3 linked regions of the Homo sapiens genome follow. The protein of the gene in region 3 purifies or fractionates together with the protein of the main gene of each other region. This does not show direct contact. Each region holds a gene or a part of one and is shown on either strand. Other genes may lie near its edges.

Region 1 (3,656 bases), on a different chromosome or scaffold from region 3:
GATGAGAAAGAGATGAAATAATTAAAAATTTAAAAAGATTTCATGATTATTATTTTCTGAGATAGAGTACTGCTCTGTCACCCAGGCTACAGTGTAGTGGCATGATTACAGCTCACTACAGCCTCGACCTCTTGGGCTCAAGTGATTTTCCCACCTCAGCCTCCCGAGTAGCTGGGACTACAGGAATGCACCACCACATCTGGCTATTTTTTTTTATTATTTGTAGAGACGGGGTTGGCCTGTGTTGCCCAGCTGATCTCAAAATCCTGGGCTCAAGCGATCCTCCCACCTCAGTCTCCCAAAGTGCTGGGATTAAGGCATAGGCTATGGTACCTGTCCAAAACATATTTTAATTACTTATGCTAGAAAATATCCATTGACTGTAGTTTAAACATTTAAAAAAACTTATAAAAATTGTGATATTAGGAATTTGAGGGTTTAATTTTAGGTTCATTTCATTTTTCTTTAGAGACAGAGTCTTGCTCTGTTGCCCAGGCTGCAGTACAGTGGTATGATCATACCTCACTGCAGCCTCAAACTCCTGGGATCAAGTGATCTTCCTGCCTCAGCCTCCCGAGTCGCTAGGACTATAGGTGCACACCACCACGACTGGCTAATTTTTAAATTTTTTGTAGAGATAGTGTCTTGCTGTGTTGCCCAGGCTGGTGTCGAACTCCTGGCCTCAAGCAATCCTTCTGCCTTTGCCTCCTAAAGCTCTGGGATTACAGGAGTGATTACGGGCCACTACACGTGGCTCTAAGTTCATTTTTGATAATTAGTTTGAATGGCTATATTAGTTGCAAAGATTTCATACAGATTCATGGAGCCAATGAAATAAATGCATTGTTAACTATGCCTACTCAATCAGAATGCCTAATTTTAATGTAATTTACTAATTATGCTAAGGCTTTCATTGAAATTCTGTAGTAAAATTCCATCTTTACTGATGTTCTTGCGAAGTTATTAGGAAGTGCTGCATTACAATGTTTTGAATAGATTCAAAATCTACCCTAAAACCAAATTAAGGAAGGCTTTTGAACAGGTGAGAAAATTCTGTTTTTATGTGTTTAAATTATGTAGATATGACGGCTGGGTGATTCATTTATATCATTTTTCAGCAAAATCACAGAAAAGTGAACATTTTCTAAAAATCTATGTTCAAAACGTTCTCTTCATTTTTTAAAGTTTCTTTTAAAAAAGCAGTTATTTTATCATTTACCTAAAGTGTGTAACTTTTACCTTTAAGGATCTGATTATGTTTCCTTTTTAAAGGGTATCTACATGCAAGTCATGGTCATTTGTCCTCAGAGAACTATTAACAAATTTTGAACCCTTTTATTTTCATTAAAAAGAACACAACTATGACAACACCTTAAAATACTACTTCACAAAATAACCAGACCACCTTTTTACACTATAAAAGCATGTCAGGGTCACTCCCTGTGTCCCTTGTCAGGGTCACTACTCTGATCAAGTATGATATTTATAAAAGTTCTACCATTTAGGATAATATCCATAAATTCAACTCATTTGGACACAAGTAAAGTACACTATGCCAAAATATGCTGAAAGGGAACAAACAAGTGAGTTTGCCACTGTCAATCCCTCGATACTAACAAGTCCCACTCTTACCTCAGGAAACCTTGACATCACGAGTCACAATGGCTGACACGTGGACCTAGTGAGAGTGCTGGCATCATCTTTGTATTCAATATTGGTAAATCTGAATTTCCTTATTCTTAAATAAAAGTATTATAAATTGAAATGCTAGGATTTTTCCAACAGGGCATCTTGTATGCTCCATAGGGAGTCTATACCCTACTTTGGAGACAACTGCTTTGAAATATACATTCTTGAGAATGAAAAAATCTATAATTTCAAGTCACCTCTAAAAAACAACCAGTTTGCTTCTTTCCTCTCTTAAGTGCTTGACAAAGTTTCAGACTACACCATTCAGAAAATGCCAGTAAAAATTATTAAATATGTCATATTTCTTTAGTGTAGAGGTTGAGAAAATTATTACAAATCTGAAGGCATACAATTTTTTTTTTTGAGACAGATTCTCACTCTGTCTCCCAGGCTGGAGTGTAGTGGCGCAATCTCAGCTCACTGCAAGCTTCGCCTCCCAGGTTCATGCCATTCTCCTGCCTCAGCCTCCTGGGTAGCTGGGACTACAGGCACCCGCCACCACGCCCGGCTAATTTTTTGTATTTTTAGTAGAGACGGGGTTTCACCGTCTTAGCCAGGATGGTCTCCATCTCCTGACCTCGTGATCCACCTGCCTCGGCCTCCCAAAGTGCTGGGATTACAGGCGTGAGCCACTGTGCCTGGCCACAAATGTTTTTTAGAATAAGTAGAGCTATTCTGATGCTATCATTTAACATAATTTATTTTCTGATAAACTGTTATTCAAGTGGACACTATCAAAATATATCCGTATAGTATTAACTGAAAGTAATGTAAAGATGAAATCTATTTCAAATGACTATAGCTATATTTTGTTGCTTTACAGAAGGGTGACATTAAAGGATCAAGAAACACGGGTAATTATTTTTATTAGAAACAAGATCTAAATCAGCTTTATAGGAGAATCCATGAATTTAAGTACGAACTAATAGTCCTTTATAAAATTAGTTTCTTCAGAAAAATCGGAGAGAGAGAAGCAGTGTTAAGAGCAGCTGGCTGCTCAGTGCTGAGTCTGGCACTCTGCTCAGGTGTGTGCCTCACCTTGGCGCCATGCTTATGCAGAACTTCCATGACATCATTATGGGCTCTTTCGGCTGCAACATGCAGGGGAGTCATGAAACTACAGAAAAGAGGAAAGAAAGAAAAGGTAATTGTCTCTCTTTTATTGCATTTCCTCTTTAGGAACTGAACAACTCCTTCTGCAATTATACTTACTCTTTATTTTTTTCATTAACATTTGCTCCTTTTCTAAGTAACAATTCTGTCACTTGTTTACGTTTGGGATGCAGAGAGGCCACAGCACAGTGCTATAAAGTAAACAAAACCAAGTTAATAAAATACACTTCCATATGTACAGTAGCTCTTGGAATTGAACAGTATCTGCTGACCATTTAAAACATTGTTATCTCAGAGTATCAGAACATATGTATATGTTTTATATCACAGAGATGATCCATATTCTTTCTACGTATAGTGGAAATACAAAACGTAAGCGTTTAAACCAAGGTGAAATTATGCTCTTAAACATTAAGAGAGATCTTATTTCTTTTGGCTTAGCCAATCAATAAATATTCACTATATATTCCATGGAGAGCATCATAATACGTATGCCTCTGCAACGCTACAGAAATCTATAACTAAGTTACTCAATCTTTCATTAGGCCATCAGCCACACAAGTCAGTATTTCTAAGCTCTTCTACAGAGGTACTCCCAGCACTACAGGAGACGTTTATATGCCCAAGGATAAGCAAGAAAATGATAGAACTGAAGCAGTTTAGAGAAAAATATTCTCAGAAATTTTAGGTTTTAACATAATATTTATACAACTTTTTTATTCTGCTTCATTTTAATATTCGTATTAAAATTTAAAAATAAAAAACTACTTTCAACTAAATAAAATGAAAACTCCAAAAAAGTGGGTCAGGTTTATTCTGTGGCTATGAATATCTCCTAGCATAACACCGTGTAG
Region 2 (3,656 bases), on a different chromosome or scaffold from region 3:
CAATGTTATTAACTTTAAAAGCTCTGAAAAGTGAAAATGACCATGAGAAGTTCTACATATAATAGAAAAGTACTCACCTATGAATCAGGAGTTCACAAAATTTGTAGTGACCTTTGTCTGCTGCTATTGTTAAAGCAGTATCTCTTGAGGAAGGCACAGGGGGAGCATTAACATCTGCTCCTTTATCAAGAAGAACTCTTCCAACCTCTGCATACCCTCCAGAAGCTGCTTCCATCAAGGGGGTAAGACCCGTCTGTTTAAACCAATAAATTATGCAACTAAGTTACATTTCTTTTTTTAACTATTCCGTAGACCAAAACTAAGCTACATAATTTCTTTAAAAACCTGAGGCAATTAACTTTTAAGACAATTCTAGTTCTGATTAGCTCTCATAAAAGAGCTAAGCAATATTTTGCCTTGAATTTTACTAAACAGCAGTAGAAATTGTTAGATTCAGACGTGCTAGAATGAACTTAAAACATGTTATCTCATGCTAAAAACAATTCTGTAACTTCTATACTTTTGTGAATTTACTCAGATAATTTCTTTGCATAATGAATAGAGATATTAAAAATAAGTAGATTAAAATCACTTTATAAATTTTTTGCATATGTGCCTTTGGTACGTTAGTCTCCAACATTTTTTCAAAGGACATTTCCTACTGGTACTATCCAAAATAACACAGATTTCTCTAGGACCTTTAATGGATGAGTGGCACACAATGAATACTTGTAATAGAAAAAGACAAATTGAATGACAGGAAAGACTCATTTCTCTTTGTGTGGTAAAAAGCCAAGGAAAAACTACACTTCCTCATTACTTAGATTAAAAGAATGTAAATGTTGCACTAAACTTTAAGAAGTAAAAGGAATTTCAGGGAAGAAGTACGAGATTTCCAGTCAAATCTTTCCAATTTCAAATGAGCACTAGATTCTCTGTTGACTAATTATTAAAAATTCTACCCAACCTACGTCTTTCCAGAGTTCTAAGAACCTTGCAGTTCTAAGCAAAGAAATTCAAGCCAATGACATACTAACTCCTATTTTCTTTCCTCTGTGTGTGTTTCCTGCATCTATGGAGATTATCTTATGACTTTTCTCCTTTATTCTTTCTTTTTTGTGGGGGCGGGGGGTGGGATGGAGTTTCTCTCTTGTTGCACGGGCTGGAGTGCAATGGCGTGATCTCTGCTCAGTGCAACCTCCACCTCCCAAGTTCCGGTGATTCTTCTGCCTCAGCCTCCTGAGTAGCTGGGATTAAAGGCGCCTGCCACCACGTCCAGCTAATTTTTTGTACTTTTAGTAGAGACGGGGGTTTCACCATATTGGTCAGGCTGGTCTCAAACTCCTGACCTCATGTGATTCACCTGCCTAGGCTTCCCAAAGTCCTGGGATTACAGGAGTGAGCCACCGCGCCCAGCCTCCACTAACTCCTATTTTCTTAATACCAAATAGTCATGAAACTGTCAAAATCTGCCATGGTCAAATTAGATGTTAGCTGCCCTAATTTTATAACTTGTGAATTAAATTTTTGCTTGGGATTTTTACAATGATAAGCACATACCTCATTAAAGGTGTTCTTTAAAAGTCTACAGTGTAAGAGTTAATACAAAATAATCTTACTACATTCAAAAGTTGTAAGCTGCAGTATTAATAGAAAGCTACTCAAGGCTGAGGTTGGGAAAAGTACTAATTCTGTTTTCTTCATTGTCCTTAATAAAAGTCATGATGGTGACAGTATGTCACTCACTATTATACAGCATAATCCCTCAACTCTGCATTGGTATCAGTTTTAATTTATGATAATTTAAAATATTATATTCAATTTGCGTTAAAATGCCATGTTCTTTCTACAGAAATGTATCTGAAATAGTTGACAAGTAAAAAATGCTTACCTTTGCCCTATGTTCAACATTGGCTTTTCGGTCCAGAAGCAAACTCACTACTTCTGCTCGGCCCTGGAAACAGGCCAGGGTGAGAGCCGTGTTCCGATTGGTCTCTATTTGGGCATTAATGTCTGAACCCATATCGAGCAGCAATTTTACTGCAGGAACATGTCCATTCATTGCAGCCAACATCAGGGGAGAAATACCTAGTTTACTCCCAGTCCTAAAGGGGGAAATGTGCTTAGAAAATTAAAATAATATGTTGCCTATTATTTTAGAAAAGCATTAAAGATGAAAAGGTTTCACTAAAAAGAGAGGTTTCTAACATCAATGAATAGATTTTACTTGTTTCGACCAATAATAAAGAATAAGAAAATGTCACAATTTAAAACATAATTTCCGGCCAGACATGGTGGCTCATGCCTGTAATCCCAGCACTTTGGGAGGCCAAGGAGGGCAGATCACCTGAGGTCGGGAGTTTGAGACCAGCCTGACCAACATGGAGAAACCCCATCTCTACTACAAATACAAAATTAGCTGGGTGTGGTGGCGCATGCCTGTAATCCCAGCTACCTGGGAGGCTGAGGCATAAGAATCGCTTGAACCCCGGAGGCAGAGTTCGCGGTAAGCCAAGATCGCGCCATTGCATTCCAGCCTGGGCAACAAGAGCGAAACTCCATCTCAAAAAATAAATAACTTAAAAAATAAAATGTAATTCCTATTTAGGGATTATAAATTTCCAACTATATAAAATAAAATACCGTTTCTGAGATCAGATGAGATTGGGCACGTTTAGGGTGGTAGGCCATAGAACAAAACACTTTTTGAAATGAGACCTCTTTATAAGCAGCCACATTACTGAAATAAGCTGAGATTACTTATAAACAAACACATTATAGGTATAATCGTTGGCTTTGCAACTTTAGTACTATCTTAATTTAAAATGTATCTGTCTAAACGTTAAGAGGTAGACATTTAAGTCCAAAGTAGTAACTTACTAAACATGAACAATAAAATGAACAGGCAATACCTTGAATTAATTTCTGCCCCAGCATTAAGCAGAATCTTAATGATATTAACATATCCTCCAGACGCAGCTAGACTCAGTGGTGTATAATCAGATACGTTCCTATGTTCTTTATTTGCACCTCGAGCCAGCAGCAAGTCTACCACCTACAAAGTAAAATATGGATAGAGAAGAGAGTTTACACCAAGGGCTCAACTTATAATGAAGGAAACACAAAGAAACAGGACTTATAACTTCCTTATCTAAATATCTGATATTTTAATTACATTTCATTAGACCCTAAATATTGAAATATCAACACTAGAGAAATGGATTCAATTTCAGGAATTCAGAGTTTTGAAATCCCAATTATACTGCAATAACAAGATGTTACCCTTTCTATTTGCCATTTATTGGGCAATAAATTTGCACTTCATATGTGTTAGAATTGTGATTCATTCAATCCGAATAAATGTAAGGATTAAGATAATTTTTATTTGGCTTTAAGGGCAAGAAACAGATTTTTTAAAAGGGGATTTATGGCCAGGCATGGTGGCTCATGCCTATAATCCCAGCACTTTGGGAGGCCAAGGCAGGAGGATCCCTTGAGGCCAGGAGTTCAAGGCCAGCTTGGGCAACATAATGAGACCTCATCTCCACCCTCCTGTTCCCTCCACAAACCCCCGCCAAAAAAAAAGGGCATTTACATTCCCATAAAAGTTAACAGAAGTACCCATTCCTCAGAAAGTATATGGAACATGTTAAAAT
Region 3 (3,656 bases):
CATTAAGGGAATGCACCTAAAATTGTTTTCAACAGAACATAAAGACAAAGGGGACATTATTTTTACATTATAATATTTGTACAAAGCTATAAACTTCCAAGTCTTTTTACATGTTATATGACTTTAGTTTCCCAACAATCCTTCAAGGTAAATATAATAGATATTACAATCTTCATTTAACAGATGAGGAAATAAAAATAGAAAGGTTAGGAATCTTGCTCAAAGCCACAAAACACATTAGTGACAGAACTTGCCGCTAGAACTCCGATATCCTGGGTCCCTCTCTGTCATTCCTCTTCTGGGTCCCTATCCACTCACTATACCATAGGATGAGTATCCAAAATCTTGGTTTCAGGTATTGATATACTTTAAAAATTGAACTATCTCTAAAGTTCATTTCCATATACAGGTAAATACACTGACTTGAAGATATATAATCTAGGACAGATTAGTAGGTGATCTGCAGTTTAAAAACCTGTCTGCTTTCAAGGGAATGCAGATTTTGTTTTCCTTAAAAACATTATGAAAGAACTCCAAGAGTTCCTCCCTTTAGCCAATAACTCTCCAATATCTGTGCCAGTGAAAAGGGGTTAGGGTGAGGCATACCCCATTATACAAAATAATAAAATGTCCCAAATACAAACATACCCATTCAAAAAGTTTTACACTCATTAGCAGTCTTTGTGCTTGGTCTACTCCCTTTCAGCTCTTAAAAGAGAAACTGCTGGGTGCGGTGTCTCATGCCTGTAATCCCAGCACTTTGGAAAGCCTAGGTGGGTGGATCACCTGAGATCAGAGTTCGAGACAAGCCTGATCAACATGGTGAAACCCTGTCTCTACCAAAAATACAAAAATGAGCTGGGCATAGTGGTGGGCGCCTGTAATCCCAGCTACTTGGGAGGCTGAGTCATGAGAATTGCTTGAACCTGGGAGGCGGAGGTTGCAATGAGCTGGGATTGCGCCACTGCACTCCAGCCTGGGAGACACAGTGAGACTCTGTCTCAAAAAAAAAAAAAAAGAGAGAACCTGTCAACTACCTAAGTATTATCTGTGTGATTTTGGGAGATGGATGGGGTGAAGAGGTAACCAATTTAAATCAGATCAGTACTCCAAACACAAAGAAGTGTTAGCAGTGCTGGAAAGTTAAACATATATATGAATACCCCTTTCAACAGAGTATGTTCCCTCATTGAAGAGTCAGCAATCAAAACAGAAAAAGTGGTTGCTCCAATCTAAACTATTTTTTAAAACTGATTTTTTTAAAGTTGTTTGTACATTTTAAAGCAAATCTTAGGAGATAAAACTGATTGAGGCTGGAGGTTAAGCTAAGCATAAAATTCTTCAATTCAATAGCGCACAAAGCCAGGCGCTATAGCTCACACCTTTAATCCCGGCACTTTGGGAGGCCGAGGCTGGTGGATCACTTGGGGTCAGGAGTTTAAGAACAGCCTGGCCAACATGGTGAAACCCTGTCTCTACCAAAAAATACAAAAATTAGCCAGGCATGGTGGTGCACACCTGTAGTCCCAGCTACTCAGGAGGCTGCGGCAGGACAATCACTTGAACCTGAAAGGCAGAGGTTGCAATGAGCTGAGACGGCACCACTGCACTCCAGCCTGGGCAACAGAGTGAGACCCTGTCTCAAAAACAAAAAACAAACAAACAAACAAAATAGGACAGAAAAACTATACATGAAAGGCAGCAAAAGCAAGTAGTTACTGACCTAGAACATCACTATATTAAGGTAGGATCAGCATACTTTCTCCAAAGGGCCAATATGTATTTTCAGGTTTGTGGTTCATCCAATCTATCACTACTACTCAACTCTGCTGTTGTGGCACAAAAGCAGTTTTGGATAATATGTAAACAATGCGCATAGCAAGAATTGGCCCTGACTGTTCTAAAAGTTCATATTGGGAAAGACCACTGGAGCTAAATCCTCTGGGATGAACTGCAAGATTGTGAGTAAGGTAGTTTAGCAGAAGGACTAAAAAAAAAAATCACTACAAATCTTGTCCGCAGAGTTTTGTGGTGGAAAAAGAACCCAGGGACTTCCAGGTTGAAAAATTCCATCCTATTCTGTGAAATCGATTCTCCTAAAACTATAAAATAAGAATAAGCATTTTTAGAATATATTATTCTAAGTTAGCTTCCTCACCTTAACAAATTATCATACTAATTCTCATGATTAGTTACAATAAATATCTTTATCAGCACCACTTTTAGCTCTCAACAAGGGAAAAGATGCAAAGTCACAAACTCAGTTTAGCCAATTCTCAAATTTACACTGTATCCCAATACCATGCATACACACAGTACTGTGCATACACACAGTCCTCATCAGGTCACTCTTAATTGTATGATGGGTATGCAACCTCTGAATGGCAAAAACAAGGAATGATTGGTCATCCTTTTGACATCTGGCCTATTCTTGTCTGAGTTATTATGAGGATACATGATGCTGGATTAATGATTAATGCAGTGCAGACAGATCAAATCCTCTCCTGTCATGTGATAGTGAAATGCTCTGCACAGCAAATGGATTATTTTCTGTAAATGGCAGTGTTTGAGAATCTTTCCTGGCCCCCTCCAATCCATGAGGTTACCTTGCTTCTTTACTTGCTCCAGAAGAAGATCCTTCATGGCTGGCTCTTCTGCAAGGTCAGAGGGAACTTCACCTTCACTATTGACAATACCTACACTGGCTCCGTGATTAATGAAATACCTGCGTAGACAAGATCCAGGATCAATATTATCTGTCAATCTAATATAAATTTTACCCATGCATCTGGCATTCAATACACAGCGAAGTCTCTATTTTGAGTTTAAAATATGGTCTCAGTTAAGATATTCCATTATTAATTTCTATGTGCCTTAAACTTCAATAATTAAGACTGAAGGCTTCCCCATTTCCTGACTAGAGCAATGCCAACAAACAGGATTTCTTTCACACTCATATTACTAACTCCCATCCTCTCACTCCCAGTGGATGGCAAGAGAATTTCTAAGTAACATAAAGAAGGCATGCAGCCTTAAACTTTCCCAGTGCCACACTGGAGCTTATTAAGTAGTGCTGTGGGTGTGAAAATAGAAGAATAAAGTGTGCATTAAAATTTGCATAAATCTGCCTAAATTATGCCTCCATAAAACTCTCCTATCAACCAGACATCCACATGAAATCTTCCTGTGCTGTAAGACGAAACTAAATTACTTAAGAAGAAATATTAAAATGTTAAATAATTAAATTCTAAATCCAAATAGAATACTTGATTCTGAAGAAGAAAGGTCTGATAATTCAATACCTTACATAGATCCTTTTTGATTTTCAGAGTGCTTTCACATAAAATTATATCATAAGTCTTAGGCAACATTATGAAGTAGGCAATGTGGGTATTATTACCATGACTTTAAGAAATTGAGGTTCATACATATTAAGTAATTTTCTCAAAACCACATAGCGGGTAAATGGCAGAGGGTACAGCCCCAGTCTTGACTTCAAATCTAGTTCATCTTTTCTTTAGATCAAGTCACTTTTGGGCCAGTGAGAACTCTAATAACGCTAGGAGCTCTATCAAATACTCAGAAGTGTTTAAAGGAAAAAGAAAAATGATTCAAATTAGACTTCAATCCATTCAACAATTCAATAAACATTTACT

What was found.
Region 1: the proteins of PPP1R12B (region 3) and TNKS purify together in Homo sapiens (affinity purification with mass spectrometry; one large-scale study listed by BioGRID and IntAct). This does not show direct contact.
Region 2: the proteins of PPP1R12B (region 3) and ANKHD1 purify together in Homo sapiens (affinity purification with mass spectrometry, with the first as the bait; one large-scale study listed by BioGRID). This does not show direct contact.

The regions. Positions count from the first base shown.
Region 1 is NC_000008.11:9,709,292-9,712,947, reverse strand, and holds part of TNKS (poly [ADP-ribose] polymerase tankyrase-1), read right to left. Parts: intron 2,994-3,656; coding exon 2,902-2,993; intron 2,807-2,901; coding exon 2,728-2,806; intron 1-2,727.
Region 2 is NC_000005.10:140,506,234-140,509,889, reverse strand, and holds part of ANKHD1 (ankyrin repeat and KH domain-containing protein 1), read right to left. Parts: intron 3,056-3,656; coding exon 2,913-3,055; intron 2,106-2,912; coding exon 1,892-2,105; intron 254-1,891; coding exon 78-253; intron 1-77. Other genes in the region: ANKHD1-EIF4EBP3 protein, read right to left, coding at 78-253, 1,892-2,105, 2,913-3,055. UniProt on the Homo sapiens protein: May play a role as a scaffolding protein that may be associated with the abnormal phenotype of leukemia cells. Isoform 2 may possess an antiapoptotic effect and protect cells during normal cell survival through its regulation of caspases.
Region 3 is NC_000001.11:202,421,689-202,425,344, reverse strand, and holds part of PPP1R12B (protein phosphatase 1 regulatory subunit 12B), read right to left. Parts: intron 2,726-3,656; coding exon 2,607-2,725; intron 1-2,606. UniProt on the Homo sapiens protein: Regulates myosin phosphatase activity. Augments Ca(2+) sensitivity of the contractile apparatus.